Regions from separate parts of the Homo sapiens genome. Here region 2 is linked to region 1. The links come from fine-mapping of genetic effects on gene expression. Tissue or cell type: prefrontal cortex. Region 1 holds a variant in brackets; the other region holds the start of a gene. All regions are shown on one strand. Distances are from middle to middle.

Region 1 (8,103 bases):
TGTCCCTTCCCAGCCTTCCCCACACACCATCACCTCTGACAACAGGACACTGAAGGGGACTAACGTGTGCCCCACTCCTTCCTTTGGTCTCAGAGTTTACAATCCCTCAAGCTAGAGAGGAAGAAGTCTAGGAATATTATTTGAGAAAAATGTGTATTATGCAACAGCTACGAGATCAAGGCCCTTCCTTACCCAGGACTCTTCTCTGCAGCCCAGCAGTGGGGCTGAGTCCTGACTGCAGCAACTCCTGCTTGGGGACACTTGGCCTTGGCTCAGGGCCCGTCTTGTGCTCCTTATTATCCCACCATTTTGGTGGGTGAGCCACATGACGATGTATCTGTCTTCCTGGCTGGAAGGAGCAAGTGGGGGCGGGGCCGGGCTGCCAGAGCTTGTTCACCGTGGGATCTGGCATCCGGCATCTGGCAGCGCCCAGGGCAGAGCGAGCTTCCACTGTTGATCTGGGTGGGTTCTTCGGGCCATTTGCTAGCGTTTGTGTTTTGGACAATTCTGCTCTAAAATAAATTGTAGTATTTGGACGAAAATGAAGGTCAGGAAGAGGAATGTTCTTTTGGTTCCAAATTTTCTAAATAGACTGCTCTGATCCAGATAGAGTACCTTCCCTTTGGGCGGCTGAAGCCATGGATAGTTTATAGTTTGCTGCCCTCTTGTGGCACAGAAGTGATAAAAAGATTGTCTTCCCCTTTCAGATGCTGTCAGGCTCATTTCTCTGTTTGACAGTGAGCCATGGACAAGCTGTGGGGCAAAAGCAAGAACTGTACGTGGTCTCCATTTACAGAACTCCCAGGCTGGTGGAGGTGGCTTTTGGTACAACTCAGGTCTGAGGGCAAAAATACACACTTTGGCTTTGCACAAAGGGGCTGACGACCCCATACGTACCCTAGCACCTGGGCTGCCCAGCTAAAGAGGTCAAGTGGCCACAAGCTGAGCCTACGGTAATCTTTAATAACTAGAGTAAATTTCCTTGTGAACTGGAGAATTGGTAAGACAAGCTCAAAACCAGATCTTCCAACTGGCCTCCCTATCCCCCAGCTCCCTCCTTCCTTTTTTCTATCTCCTTAGCGATTGTTGTCTTCTCCAAAGGGTCTCCCCTTTCCAAACCCCAACATGATTCTGTTTTGCCTCCTGTTATGGACTGAATTCTGTCCTCTCCCAAATTCACATGCTGAAGCCCTAACCCCCAGTACCTCAGCATGTGAGTGTATTTGGAGACAGGGCCTTTGAAGAGGTGATTAAGGTTAAATGAGGTCATTAGGGTGGACCTTAATCTAATATTATAATTTACATATTATATATAATATATATTATAAATTATAAATTATATATCATATATTTTTATATAATATATAATATATACAATATATGATATATAATATATAGTATATAATATATAACAAATTATATATAATACATAAAATATATAATATTATATATCATATATTATATATAATAGTATATATATTTATATGATATATAATATATATGTATTATATAAATGTTATATATTTTATTATATATAATATATATGTAAATTATAATATATATTATATATTGTATAAATTATAATATATAATAAATATACCATATTAGATATATTGTAACTTATATATTATATAATTTATATATTATAATATATAAATTATATCTAATATGGTGTCCTCATAAGAAGAGGGGATTAGGACATATAGAGACAGATGGCAGGGCTGTGCACGTACAGAGGAAAGACCATGTGAGGACACAGTGAGAAGATGGCCAGCTATTACACAAGCCATGGAGAGAGGCCTCGGGAGACACCAACGTGGCCGACACCTTGATCTTGGACTTTTAGCCTCCAGAGCTGAGAAAATATTAATAAATTTCTGTTGGTTAAGTCACTTAGTCTGTGGAATCGTGTTGTGGCAATCTTCAACTAATACACCTCCTAATAAAATACTTGTTTCTAAAGGGGGAGTTGTTGCATGTTGAGGTTTTTACTGTGCACCTCTGTCTGGGGTGAATGCTGGCAAACTGCAGGAAGACTGCGCCATAAACCCTATCATGGTTTGGCTTCTTCCTTGACCCACTCAGAAAAAGTTCAGTTCTTCTGAAAAACTCACGAGTACTCCACAAGGTGGCACATATCACCCTCCACACCATCCTCATCTCGAGGTCTCTGTAGTACACCTGAGACCAAGGGGGGAGCTCGTGTACATTCTGGTCTTTGTCAACAGTGACTCCCAACCACACCCTTATTCTTTCAAAATATATTTTATTAGCGGCACATGGAATGTCAAGTTAAGCAAATTCTTTCCAGAGAGAAGGTGAGCCTGACAGACTAAAACGTTGAGCACGGATGATACAGCAGAAATAACATTTCCAGTGTAATGAGAGATAAAGAGGAATACTGCCCACCGAGGAAATGACTTTCTTCACCATGCTGACCACACTGCACAGCGCCCGATCCGGCTGGTGAGGATGGGGAGGTGGGAAGAATCTCAAAGCACTGGACAGGGTGAGGACTCAGGAAGTCACGGGGTCAGCCCTACAGCATCAGCTCCTCTCTGTTGTTGGAGAGGCCCTGAGCCCCATTACTCACTATACGAGGACCAGAGTGTCTTTGGCAGGTGGAGGCTGGCTCACGGGAGAACACCAAGTGAGGGGGCTCCTCTGTGAACCCAAGAAACTTCAAGGAACCCCACAGCGTCTCCCTTATGACCTCCCATCTCCAGATTAGGAAGCTATGGATTCCCAGAGGGTCCTTTGGAAGTATCTAGAAATGTCCAGGTAAGTCAGAGAAGGGCTGAACTTTCTTAGAAAAATCACTTTAGTCTCTCATACATGAAGAACATTTTCCTTAAAGGATTCTGGTTCTTTTCCCTGATGTTCTTGTGCAACGTTCTGAGGGTCACCTGGGCTTCGCCCACCACTGCTTCTACTGCTGCTGTGTCACTTTCAAACAGCTCCACCTCCACCGGCCCCTCCCTTCCCACCTTCCAGCCCACAGTGTCTGCAGGCTGTGGGTCTCCCACATCTGTCATGTCAGGATCATGCTGCTGCTTTCTTTCTTTTTTCCCTTTTCTTTTTTTTTT[TTTTTTTG/G]ATACAGGGCCTGGCTCTGTTGCCCAGGCTGGAGTGCAGTGGAGTAATCATGGCTCACCTCAGCTTTGACCTCCTGGGCTCAAGTAATCCTCCTAATACGGGCATTTCTCTCATCGCTTCAGAACCCGCCCCACAACCAAACATTCAGATGCTTATTAAGGCAACAAAACAAGTGACAGACGGGACAATTTTTCCAATTCTAGATCTAATTGATTAGGCTATGTCTCATGAGGAGACTGTACTTGACCTCTAAGCTAGCATCTGGAATACAATCTTCCAGCGGCTTAGGGAAGGTCGGTGATAGTAGTATCGTCAGGATCAATTCCGAAGTGCAGCTTGCCGTCCTTGGCGGCTGCCCAGGGCATGGAGGTGGAGGTCCACTTTGCCACCCAGTCTCCTGTTTTGCTAACCACGATGAGGCCACCTAAACCTTTAACCCTTGACTTCATATAACCCAACGATAGGTCCGCAGCCTCTTCTACCGTCTTTCCTGAAAACAAGGAAGGGTTGAGAAACAACACACATTACTGAAAGGAATCTCATGGGAAAATCACTTGCCATTTGAAATGCCAAAGTGAGCTAGCAAGGATTTTTGGTAAATGAACGCCTGAATGCTTAAAAGGAGGGTCCTCACCTCCTTGCCCTGAGACAGCGCCCTAGCATCAGCCTGAGCAGAGGGGTCTTCCCTCCCACATCCAGGCTCAATGTCTCTCTACTGCCCCCTTCTCCTGAGATGTGGAAGATAACAGTACTCAATGCTCTACCATTCCAGACCTAAGGGAAGGCGGAGAGTCAAAACAAGGTGTTAACGGCCTGAAAGCAACATCTGTAGCCAACAGGAAAGGGTTTCCTACACTTCTCCATGCGCTTACTTATCAAATACCTTCTATGCACTTATCTTCACAAATTATTTTACTTGTCCTGTGGTCTGTGTACCTTGTTCTATGTGGAACAGGGTGAGTCTAGCCAGGTTCACCTTCAGGATGCTTTCCCCATGCCCTGTGGTTGAGACGGCTCCGATGTCATTGTCGGCATAACCTCCAGCTCCTGCTCAAAAAGGGTGATTGTTCTGAGCAGTAACAGTCAAGAAATTCAAATCCATATTAGAAGTCGGACGCTACATGAAAGTTAAATCGCGAAGGGTGCTCAAGTACCGACAAAGGTCAGGTTAGTAGCCATGATCTGCGGAGGCAAAGGTGGACTAGAAAGCGTCATGTAGATGCCCCAGAATTTAGGAGGATAAAGGGAGCCTCAGAGGGGCAGGCCTGACCTTTCACAGAGCAGCTACAGCAGGACAGCATCTCCTTGGCCCCAAAGCACAGCCATTCCTTTTTGCTCAATGAAGCCACCCTCTCCCTGTCTCCTCCTCATGCCCCACACACTATGGAGGAAGAAACAGCATGACTGCATTATATGGATCTCTAGCAAGGCCATCATGTTCCAGTGATTTGGGGAAAATGATACCCACAACCTAACATCCATGCACACTGTCTAATGGAGGGCAGTTATATTTGTTGAGGGTGGGCATAATTGGACCTGAGGGAACTATTCTGGGCTATCCACTTAAGTGGGGGTCTGGAGTGAAAGCTACTTTGATAAGATTTCTTCCTTATTTTGGGCTTGGATTAAGCAACCTTACAGCCTTCTCTGAGTCATTCTTGTATCTGTTCACACACAGCTACCAGCCTCAGAGTCCTTTAGCCTTGGAAGGATTCGCCTTTACCCTCCCACAGTTGATACAGAAGCACAGAAGATTGACATTTGCCTTACTTATTGATGCTGGACATGGGGCAAGGACTCAGGAGTTGAGATGCTGCATTGGATTGTCACAAGGCCCCAGAGGTTCTCAAAGGCAGATAATCCCTGGCTCTGGTTCTGGAGGGAGCTGACACTGGACAGCCAATGAACTGCTGCAGTGGGAGGAGGCGCCTTTACTTTTTCTTATAAGCTTCTGCTGGGGAATTAACTGACCGGGTTCCATGGTGTCAAAGTGCCCTAATATTTGGAAGCAGCCAAGTCTTTGCTTACTTTTCAGTTACTCTAGGACCACAGAAGGCCAGGTGTCTCCAAGGGTGGTCCTGGCACAGGCATCGGGCGTGTGAAGCTGTCCTCCCCGCCACATGCACTTCTCAGGACAAGTGCATTGCCTGAGGTGACCACTGCTGAGCCTAGTACCGTCCCCCATGACTGTCCAGGCAGGGGCCTGGCCAGTGGCAGTGCTCCTTGGGGAGGCTCCTCAGAAGGCCAGGCAGAGCACACCTGGTGCTCACAGCTGGACAGAGAGTTCTGAGAATTTAGCTTATGCCTTTTCTTGTCAAGATTTACCACTGTAACTCAAGCTTAAAATTAATTTCTAGGATCTAACCTGGAGTGGCCCTGTGGCCTGGTCTGAACGCAGCTGAAGCAAGCTGCACTACTGACCAGGCACAGTTTGGTGGGATTTTTGCCAAGGAGAAAGAAAGGTAGACTACTTCACATCTCTTGGGTGATATACCAAGGAGAAGAGGAGTTACCAAGCCTCTACTCTTTTTAAGGAAGCTTCCAGTGTCTCTGAGTTCATGACAGAAAAAGGGTATCAAGAATTGTCGAGAGTGTAGATTATTACTAAAGACTAGAGCAACACATTAAAAAGGGAAGGTAGGGCTAGTTTTCCTCTAAAAGAATAAGCTGCTCTTTAGGGCAGATGGAACAATTTAGCTGCTTCTCAAAACTTCAGTCACCTGTGGGGGTTCATGAGGATTCCTGCATGACAAGTGTGAAAGTCTGCACGGAGTGAAACATACAGCCCCCCAGCCCTGCCTCTCACCCACTCCTGGGAATGAGATGGCGTGCTTCCCCGTTAATGTAAACAACATCTCAATCTATAATGTGTCTGTAGAAGTATGTCACTTTCATGCTGCTCAGATCTAACAACTGCAGTCTCAGATTTCTCAGATTGCTAATCAGAGCCCATGTCTCGGGAGTAAGTCTTACTCAAGTAAGTCTGCAGATCCTGAAACTGTGGCTAAAGAGAAGACAGAATCACGACAGGGTAGACTGGGGGCAACGTTAGCATCCCTGTCTCCACTTCTCTCCCCAAGTTGTTCCAAAAAGGCATGCAATCTAGTAAAAACAGTGGCGCCAGATACAAACACCCTCTCAAGGCAGCACCCCGAACAACCCCTTCCAACCCCATTGTCACTCCCAGACATCCTGGAGCTGCACCAAAAGCAGAAAGGGAACGCAGCAAGAAACGGAGAGGGGCAGGGAATAGAGAGTGAGGAAAGCCTGAGGGCGGGAGAAGAGGGGAAGGGGCAGGAGGCATCCCTTGGTCCTACCTAGACACGGTGAGTCCCCAACGCGGCCGACCATTTTATTAACGATACCGCCTGTGGAGGTTGCGTAGGCTACATTCCCTTTGCAGTCCAAGGCAACAGCACCCACGGTTCCCAAGTTTCTGCCAAAAATAAACAGAAAAAAAGTGACAGGCTGAAAATGAGAATGAACACCATAACCAACAATGTACCTTAAAACCACTTAAAGTTTCATGTTATATGTTGATGGGGCACCCATTTAATTCCAACATTCTAGAAAGAACCTGCTGCTTCTCATTCTACGTGTAAGTTACAGGTGGATTGCTGGACACTCCTCCACACCTCAGCTTTAAGAGTACATCCAATCCCAACACCACCGTTTTCTAGCTGTGATGCTAAGTTTTATTTTGTGTCTCTTTGTCCCCATCATAAAATGGGGATAAAAGTAAGAGTGCTTCTCAAACTTTAGTGTGTATAAGAATTCCTGGGGTGCTTGGGCCCACAGAGACTCTGAAGCTGCCACCAAGAGGAGAAAGGAAAGGAAAAAGTGACTTGGTAGATACAGGCTGGGACCCAAAATCCTGCTTTTTTTTTTTTTTTTTTTTTGAGATGAAGTCTCACTTTGTCGCCCAGGCTGCAGTGCAGTGGCACAATCTTGGCTCACGGCAACCTCTGCCTCCCGGGTTCAAGTGATTCTCCTGCCTCAGCCTCCCAAGTAGCTGGGACTACAGGCATGCACCACCACACCTGGGTAATTTTTATATTTTTAGTAGAGACAGGGTTTCATCATCATCTTGGCCAGGCTGGTCTCAAACCTCTGAGCTCAGGTGATACGCCTGCCTTGGACTCCCAAAGTGCTGGGGTTACAGGCGTGAGCCACTGTGCCTGGCTGATCCTGCGTTTCTGACAACCTCCCGGGTGTCGCTGATGCTGCCTGCCTATGGACCCTGTGCATGGGGTTGTCGTAAAGATCAAATCCGTTAATTTTCCCCTAACATTTTATTATGAATTCTCGAATACAGTCATGTGCCACCTATGATGTTTTGATCAACAGACTGCATATAGGATGGTGGTCCCATGAGATTATAATCCTCTATTTTTACTGTACTTCTATGTTTAGATACACAAGTACTTACCATTGTGTGACAACTGCCTAGAGGATTCAGGACAGTCACATGCTGCACAGGTGTGTAGCGTAGCAGCAACAGGCCGGACCACATAGCCTAGATGTGTATTAGTCTCTCCTATCTGGGTTTGTGTGAGTGCACCCCTATGATGTTTGCATGGCCATGAAATTGCCCAACTATGCATTTCTCAGGATGCATTTCTTGTCCTGTCATGAGACGCGTGACTGTAACACAGTTGAACAAATTGTACACGAACACCCCAGCATACCCACCAGCAAGGTTCTATAATGAATTATATTTGAGGCATTGTTTTAAGTGCTGGGACACAGTGGTAAAGCTAAACAAAGTCCTTTCTCCCATGGAGCCTGCATTTGGGGTAGAGGGTGGTAGTAACAGGGCAATAATATGTCAGGTGACAAAAACAAAACAAAAAAACAAAAAACCCAAACAAAAAAACAAAGAAGCACCAGGGAAGAGTGATGGTGGGGAGGTGCTGTTTTACACAGAGTGTCTCTGCAGGACAGAGGGGCAATCATGCCATCCCAGCTGCTGGGGAGGAGCGTTCCTGATGCACAAACATGCCTGCCATG
Region 2 (8,103 bases), 54 kb after region 1:
TGTAAGGTCCCGTTTCAGCCAATAGAAACCGGACACAGCAGTAGGGTAAATGCGTCAGGTTATAAATAACCCTGTCTCCTTTGTTCAGTATACTCTTGGGACAAAACTGCTGACAAGTGTACCCTTTCAACAAAAAATAAAAACGGCCTTACTAAATAAAATAAATTAATGTTCGAATACTATTTCTTTACAGCACCAAAAAACAAACATTTCAAACATACGACATCCTGGAAATGACAAAACTACAGGAATAGTAAACAGATTAGTTGTTGCCAGGGGCTGGGAGTGAATGGAGGCGTGGACTCAAAGGGATGTGGGAGAGTAATGTAACTGGTTTATATCTTGATTGTGGTGGCAGTTACATGACTATATGTCTCTGTCATGGAACTGTATACTAAAAAGGGGATCTTACTATATGCAAATTATACCAACAAACCAACACCAAACCCATTAAAATTGTATGGTATTAGGCTAGTAGATTCTAAACCTGGTTGTATCTCAGAATCACCTGGGAATCTTCAAAACAAAGAAATGAATACCAATTCCTAGACCCCACTACAGATTTTTACCTTATTGATTCTACATTGTAAGTCCAGAAAGAGACTGGATAAATGAAAAAAATCCTGTTTTCAGCCGGGCGTGGTGGCTCACACCTGTAATCCCAGCACTTTGGGAGGCTGAGGTGGGCGGATCATGAAGTCAGGAGATCCAAGACCATCCTGGCTAACACAGTGAAACCCCGTCTCTACTAAAAATACTAAAAATTAGCTGGTCCTGGTGGTGGGTGCCTATAGTCCCAGCTACTCGAGAGGCTGAGGCAGGAGAATCGCTTGAACCTGAGAGGTGGAGCTTGCAGTGAGCCGAAACTGTGCCACTGCACTCCAGCCTGGGTGACAGAGCGAGACTCAGTCTCAAAAAAAAAAAAAAAAAAAATCCTGTTATCTCAAAGATTCTCTAATAGCTTGTAAATTGAATTGTAGAGAGAATATCTCAAGTGCTGTGTAAATATCGCTGAGCTCCAGTGAAAGCAAATGGTCATTTGGTTGCCAATCTAAGTAAGTTTTTAAAGAATATTCCTAGCATTCAAATTTAAAAGTTCAGTCTTTACAGTGTTGGTATCTAAAAATCAACCACTTTTCAATTTGACATAAAGTCAAATGCACACTGAAACAGGAATAGAATGTAAATAAACATAATGTTTTTACAAATGTTCAGGCAAGTTGTGTCATGAATGCTAATTACTGCCACTGAACTCAATACCTACTGGGAGTCAGCTTTTTGTATGAAGTTCCCAAACAGTTATTTATTCTAGAGGATTATAGCAGAGGATGCTGGGAATATTGCTTGCCGGTAGTGACCTTGGCTGGGAAAAGCCAAGGTCCACAGTACGCTGTTAAAAGTCCCACCTTTCCCCCCATAATCTTTGCTTTCCCTCTTTTCAGCTCTACTCTTTTCTTCCTCAATATGCGGAATAGAGGACATTTGAAAGATGAGAGGGCAGACGTTGAGAAGGAAGGCCTCTGGATACAGAGCAAAAAAATGAGAACTAGCTGCTCCAATTCCCTAATCTGTGCTTCCCAATGCATGCAGATGACAAATTGTTAGAATAAGAGATGGTCGGAAACCAGAATGACCCATTTCAAATGAAGGTCCTGTGTAAATAAGTGAGGGTTTGACAGCCCAGGGGGTGCTGAGTGCTAAGAAGCGTAAGGTTTAACAAGTCACCCACAGAAAGAGCTGGCTGCTCCCTCTGCTGGCAAAGTCAGTGCCTATCTGGTAAATTCTGGCTCTACAAATGGAGCCATGAAAGCACACTATTAGGTCTCATTTTAAATTCAGATGAACTTAATTTTATTTTCAGAGACAGAGTCTCACTCTGTCACCCAGGCTGGAGTGCAGTGGCGCAGTCTTGGCTCATTGCAGCCTTGACCTCCTGGGGCTCAAGGAATCTTCCTACCTCAGCTTCCTGAGTAGCGGCGGCTACAGGCTTGTGCCACCACGCTCAGCTGATTTTTGTATTTTTTTTTTTTTGTAGAGATGGGGTTTTGCCATGTTGCCTAGCCTGGCATTGAACTCCTGAGCTCAAGTGATCCGCCCACCTCAGCTTTCCAAAGTGCTGGGATTACAGGCGTGAGCCACTGCACCGGTCTCAGGAAGAATTACACAATTTTTCACAAGTGTTAAAGAGTGCTGCGTAAAGGGGACAGAACAAGAGTAAATATTTGATGATTAATTAAGATTTCCTGAAATTCTTTTCCCTGACAGATGGGTGGTATAATTCCAGGAAGTATTTCAATCTCTAGCCTAGATCTTAGGTTTGCCATTTTAAAACAAAGAGATGAATGTCTTCCACCAAGTTAATCTGTTTATGCCTTAGTCTGATCTGAGAAATGAGGATAATAATTATGCCTAACTTATACCTAACTCATTTAACTCAACTGAGTTTAAGTGATTAACTCATAAGTGAATCATTTAATGTTCATTATGAGTTAACTTGAGTTAGTTTAACACAAGTTAACCAACTTAAGAGAGTTACATGATCAACTCATTTAATGTTCAGATTCAATAAATCAAGCAAATTTCTTAGACCACTGCCTGATACATGGTAGATACTCATATTAGCTATAATGATTAGTATTCCAAAAAAGGGTGGACTGAGTGAAAGAAGCGAAACACAAAGGAATACACTCTGCACTCCAAAGTTAACCTGAAAACTTTGGAACCTTGTCGGGGGAGGTAGGACATGCCTCATTATTCCCTCCTCCCTTTTGGAATTCAGGCCCAGCTGACCAGCACTAACATTAAAACAGATCTTAAGACTGACAAAGCAGACTTTGTAGCAATAAGATACCAAATTCCAGCGGGACTCTAGTATGACATCACATGACAGATAGCAAGCCCTGAAAGTGAAGTATTTTACCCCAAATTACGTTTCTTCGCCATATCTTGAAATAGTCCTGCAAAGCTAAAGCTATCTCTTGTGGGGAAAATCTACATTCTGAAGAGAATCCCCTTCCTTTTCTAGGCCTTTTTCCTGATTCAGGAGAGAATCAACTCTGATAAGAAACATTTACAATTTATTCTCTCAATAGACTGCTACCTGGAGACTTCCTCTGCCTAAGGGAAATCTTGGTCTCCTCAACCTCTTATCTTAATGCAGACATTCCCTTCTTTTTTCAGTTTTTTTTTTTTTTTTTGAGATAGTCTCGCTCTGTCGCCCAGGCTGGAGTGATCTCGGCTCACTGCAACCTCTGCCTCTCAGGTTCAAGCTATTCTCCTGCCTCGGCCTCCCGAGTAGCTGGGGTTACAGGCTCCTAGCACCACGCCTGGCTTTTTTTTTTTTTCTTTTGTATTTTTAGTAGAGGTGGCTTTTCACCTGTTAGCCAGGCTGGTCTCGAACTCCTGACCTCAGGTGATCCACCCGCCTTGGCCTCCCAAAGTGCTGGGATTACAGGCGTGAGCCACCGTGCTAAACCGCCTTCTATTAATTCTATCTGCAGCCACAAGTCCTTATATAATCCAGACATTCCCTTCTGTGGATTCCAGGTGTTTGGACAAAACTTTAAATCAATTGTTCATCAGAAAATCTTTGAATCTTAACTATGACCTGGAAACCACTCCCCCTCCCCCAGTAGTCTCACCTCTCCAGATGGAACCAATGTATGTCTTGTATGTACTGATTGACATCTTATGTCTCTCCAGAAGCACACATTCTCAGGATTTCCCAAGAGCTGTATCAGAGGCCATTGGTCACTCATATTTGCCTCAGTATAAATCTCTACAAATATTTTAGCGTTTGACTCTTTTCAGCACAGGTAGAAAAATTAAATATTGTTTCTTTTTTACATACTTAGTTTCACCCCAAAGCTCATTAGATTCCCTAACACTATGTAGGTTCTATTTATTCTGAAGAAGGAGCTTGACCTGACTCACATTATTTACTAGCTGAAAGGCACATTTACCTGCGTTGAACTCGGGATCGTCTTCCAGGGCGACGACAGCTCCCTCTACGGCATCCACGGCGCTCCCGCCCTCCCGGAGGATGCCGTAGCCCACGGTGGCGGCTCTGACCATGCCCTGGTGCACTCGCTCCTTCCGATCCTTGGAGATGGGACCGGCTCCGCCGCCGTGGACCACTACGATGGGATTCATGTCGGCGGATCCTAGGCAGCAGGAAGGCGAAAGCGTCGTCCAAAGCCAGCCCAAGGAAGCCGCGCGGGTACAAGGTCCTCGGGAGACCCTGTGGGGACAATGCCCAGTCTCTGTTCTGAACGGCTGGGTTCGCAGCTGGGGGTGGGTAGGGGCGGCTCGGTCGAGCTTGGTACGAAAAGCCCAGGGGCCCGGCGCCCTCCCGCGTTCCTCTCCGCCCCCGGCCCGGACCTGCTGGGGGTCTCAGTTTCCCCGGGGACGTTAACCCGCGCCCACCGCCGCCCGCCTCCAAGCCCCGGCGCCGAAGGAGGATGTCTATTTCGCCTTCGGGAAAATGTCTATTTTCGTTTATTTCATTCGCCCTCCCGCGTCTCGGGCGGCTGCTCCGGGAGGGCCGCCGACTTACCCAGGGCACCGCAGGACGCGGACGCCGAGACCTCAAGCTGGGTCGAGCCAGCCCCGCAGCCGCCCGGTACCGCCGCTCCCCGACGCCGGCTCGAAACCGCTCAGCCCGCAACCGCTCTGGTCACAACGGTTCTGCGCCTGCGCACGAGGGCGGGACCGCCGCACGGCCCAGTTCCCATAAAGCCCCGAAGGCCGGCTGGCGCGCACCTGTCTCACTCCTCTCAAGAGTCTACGCTCTTGGCCGGCCCGAGCTTCCTGGTGGCACGCGGGGAACCTCCTGCTCCTGACCAGGCTAGGGGCTGGGTGGTTGGGTTGGTGGCGAGAAGCGTGAAGTGGCATGCCACGATTTTGTAATTGCAGATTGAAAAGCAACGCTAGGCTGTGCGCAGTGGCTCATGCCTTGTAATCCCAGCACTTTGAGAGGCCGAGGCGGACGGATCACCTGAGGTCGGGAGTTCGAGACCAGCCTGACCAACACGGAGAAACCCTGTCCCTACTAAAAACACAAAATTAGCTGGGCGTGGTGGCGCATGCCTGTAATCCCAGCTACTCTGGAGGCTAAGGCACGAGAATCGTTTGAACCTGGGAGGCGGAGGTTGCGGTGAGTGGAAATCGCGCCATTGCACTCCAGCCTGGGCAACAAGAGTGAAACTCCGAATCAAAAGAAAAAAAAATTATACTGGGACAATGGGCATAAACAGGGACAGATCCAGGCAAACTGTGATTGATCTCCTGTGGATAGGAGAGTCCTTTCCCTTCTTGTTTACCCACAACTGATAACATATTTTACCACTCTTGGGAATTCCCTTTACTCCTGTTTTACCTTCGTTTCCTGCCTTAAGGCCCAGTTTAAATGAACCCCTCCTGCAAAGCCTTCTCCCTGGCACCCCACTAAGGATCAGTCATTCCCTTTCTAGTGACCTATTGTTAGAGATTACCACAAATTTATTGGCTTCAAACAACACACATTATCTTACAGTTCTGGTGGTCAGAAATTCAAACTGGGTCTGCAGGGTTGAGTTCCTTCGGGAAGCTCCAGAAGAGAATCTGTCTTTTCTTGCTTCTACAAGCTGCCTGTATCCTTGGCTCATGGCCTCATCCTCCATTGCCAAAGCCAACAGCCTAGCATCTTTAACTCTCTCTCCCTCTGGCCTGTTTCTGCTGCTACGTCACTTCTCTCTCTGTCACCATCATCACGATTTTCTTTTCTGACTCTGACTCTCCTGCCTCCTTCTTAAAGGAAGTCCCTTGGGATGACATTGGGCCCACCCAGATAACCCAGGATAATCTCCCTTTCTTACAATTTCTATTCTCATCTGCAAAGTCCCTTTTGCCATGTGAGGAGTGTTCACAGGTGGAGATTCGGATGTGACACCTTTGAGGGCCGTTATTCTGTCTCCCACACTCACCTCTTGGAAGAGGGTTATTTTAGCACGTCTCAACTGGTCGTGAGCCTAGTTGTGTCATCATAATACAGCTCACCATCATTTGGTTTCAGCTATTTATAGGAACCTGAACCCTACCCTATGCCTAGCCCTAACTCAAACCCCATCTCTACTGTTTTTCCTGATTGATCTGGAATTCAGTGATCTGGCTGAGGCTGGGGAAGGTGGCTGGTGGCCCAAGCAGGTAGAATGTTGGTTTCCATTTGATCCTCCCATCTCAGCCTCATGCGTTTATCTACTTCTCTGATGGGCTTCGTATTCCCCATCCCAATCCAAAGTCTCTTAGATAAATTCTCTAGAAAATAAACTTCTGGTCTTTGAGGAGGAAAGAGGAAGCATCTTTTTGTCCGGCTCTGTGGGATAGGAGAAGGAATCTGGCTAACTCCTCTGTAGACGATGTTCCATCAACAATCATTTTATGGATTAAGGATTGTATTCAACTGTCCCTGACGAAACGTGACCACAGTGGTTTAACCAGATAACTGTTGATTTGAAAACAACAATAACAACAACAACAACAACAACAACAACAAGACATCTAGTGGTTGCTGCCCAGGCTGGTGCAGCAGCTCCAAGGTGACACAGATGTCCCATCTCCTTCTCTTCCCTTCAGCATGTGGCTTTCACATTTATGGTGCTCCTAGGCACCTTGATCACTATTGGGGCAGAAGGAATGGGGAAGGGCAAAGGGAAGAAGGCTTTTGCCAGCTCCCCTTTGTTCCTTTAATTCAGGAAAGCTCTCTAGCTTTCCTAGAAGTCCTCCAAGTGGACTTTTATTGGCCAGAACTGGATTGGGGGGCTGCCCCTAGTGGCAAGAGAGTCTGAGTTTTTATTTTAGCAGGGTACATCATGGCCCTGGATAAAATCAAGGTCTCTTGGCAAGAAGGAAGGGTGACAGGCTATTGGAGAGACAACTGGGAACACCTGCCACTCCTGCCTCCCCATCTTTGAGATTCCTGTGTGTCTAAGCCCTGAGTCTCTCAAGCGTTCTCCAGAACAAATGGATTCACCTCTCAAGTAGATTACAACTTCCTTTAATCTGCCATTTGTTATTCATCTTCCAAAGTGACCTTTTTTACCTGCCATTGTCATCTCTCCCATTCTTCCTGTCTTTGTGGGTAGTATTCTTTTTAAGATTGTTTACTATCATTTTAGAGGGATTTTTGAAGGGAGGAGTAACCCATTTGTGTGACTGGGGAGGTTGACTAGAGCCCCAAGGAAGTGATTCTAACTACAGTGGCTCTGGATGTTCTAGGAGGAGGAGGGTTGGGTTAGGGAATGCCAGAGTTGGGGAGAGGAGGTGGGACCAGAAAAGGAGGGACTGGGCAGGGACTGGGCATTTCTGGGTCAGAAATGAAGGAGGCATATTAGAGAGATTGACGAAGAAGAAATGGGGGTGGGAGGGAGGAAGAGAAGAAAAAAAGAAAGAAGCAACTAACATTTCCTTCCTTTCCTTCCCTTCCTTCCCTTTCTTTCCTTTCTTTCTTTCTTCTTTGAGACGGAGTCTCGCTCTGTTGCCCAGGCTGGAGTATAGTGGTGCGATCTTGGCTGACTATAATCTCCATCTCCCGAGGCTCAGACATGATTCTCCTGCTTCAGCCACCCAAGTATCTGGGATTACAGGCATGCACCACCACGCCCAGCTAATTTTTGTATTTTTAGTAGGGATGGGATTTCAACATCTTGGCTACGCTGGTCTCGAACTCCTGACCTCAAGCGATTTGCCCACCTTGGCCTCCCAAAGTGCTGGGATTACAGGTGTGAGCCACTACACCTGGCCGCAACTAACATTTTCTGAAGGTCCACTGGGGAACTGGCAGGCTGCCTTTACTACGTTCTTACTGCCTAGCAACTTCCCATCCCCACCAGTCTCAGCTACATGAGGAAAAGGCTTTTGGCTGACCCCACTGGGGGCAGGATGGGAATCTGTGAGACTCCCTCCAAATTCTAGAATGTGTAACAGTATCTTGAGCCTGCCACCTTCCTATCTTGAGCTTCGCTTTCAAACAAGAAGCGGGACACATACGTTTCAACTCTGAGATCCCTGAGCTTATTTAGGAGATTTAGTACCCATGAATTTGTTCAGGAACGGGGCCTGAGGCTG

Alleles and levels. Positions count from the first base shown, and alleles are read on the strand shown. Sizes are in standard deviations (SD) of each study's normalised expression.
As copies of TTTTTTTG replace G in region 1, the expression in prefrontal cortex of the gene that starts at base 4,682 in region 2 goes up (small effect, 0.33 SD a copy in ROSMAP).

The links. PIP is the estimated chance that this variant, and not a neighbour inherited with it, causes the effect.
Region 2: ASRGL1 starts here. The variant in region 1 is fine-mapped to the expression of ASRGL1 in prefrontal cortex (ROSMAP, PIP 0.95).

What each region holds. Positions count from the first base shown.
Region 1 is chr11:62,387,559-62,395,661 of GRCh38, reverse strand. ASRGL1 (asparaginase and isoaspartyl peptidase 1) reads right to left here. Exons shown (of 7, transcript NM_001083926.2): 5 at 6,411-6,529; 6 at 4,030-4,140; 7 at 2,250-3,583. The coding sequence ends at 3,378. Among named protein-coding and RNA genes, the nearest start is that of SCGB1A1, 27 kb to the left of the region's middle. RefSeq lists enhancers at 562-611, 722-791. The variant TTTTTTTG/G (reference allele first, on the strand shown) is at 3,087.
Region 2 is chr11:62,334,027-62,342,129 of GRCh38, reverse strand. It overlaps ASRGL1 (asparaginase and isoaspartyl peptidase 1), which reads right to left and starts at 4,682. Exons shown (of 7, transcript NM_001083926.2): 1 at 4,556-4,682; 2 at 3,963-4,240. The coding sequence starts at 4,152. RefSeq lists an enhancer at 4,102-4,771.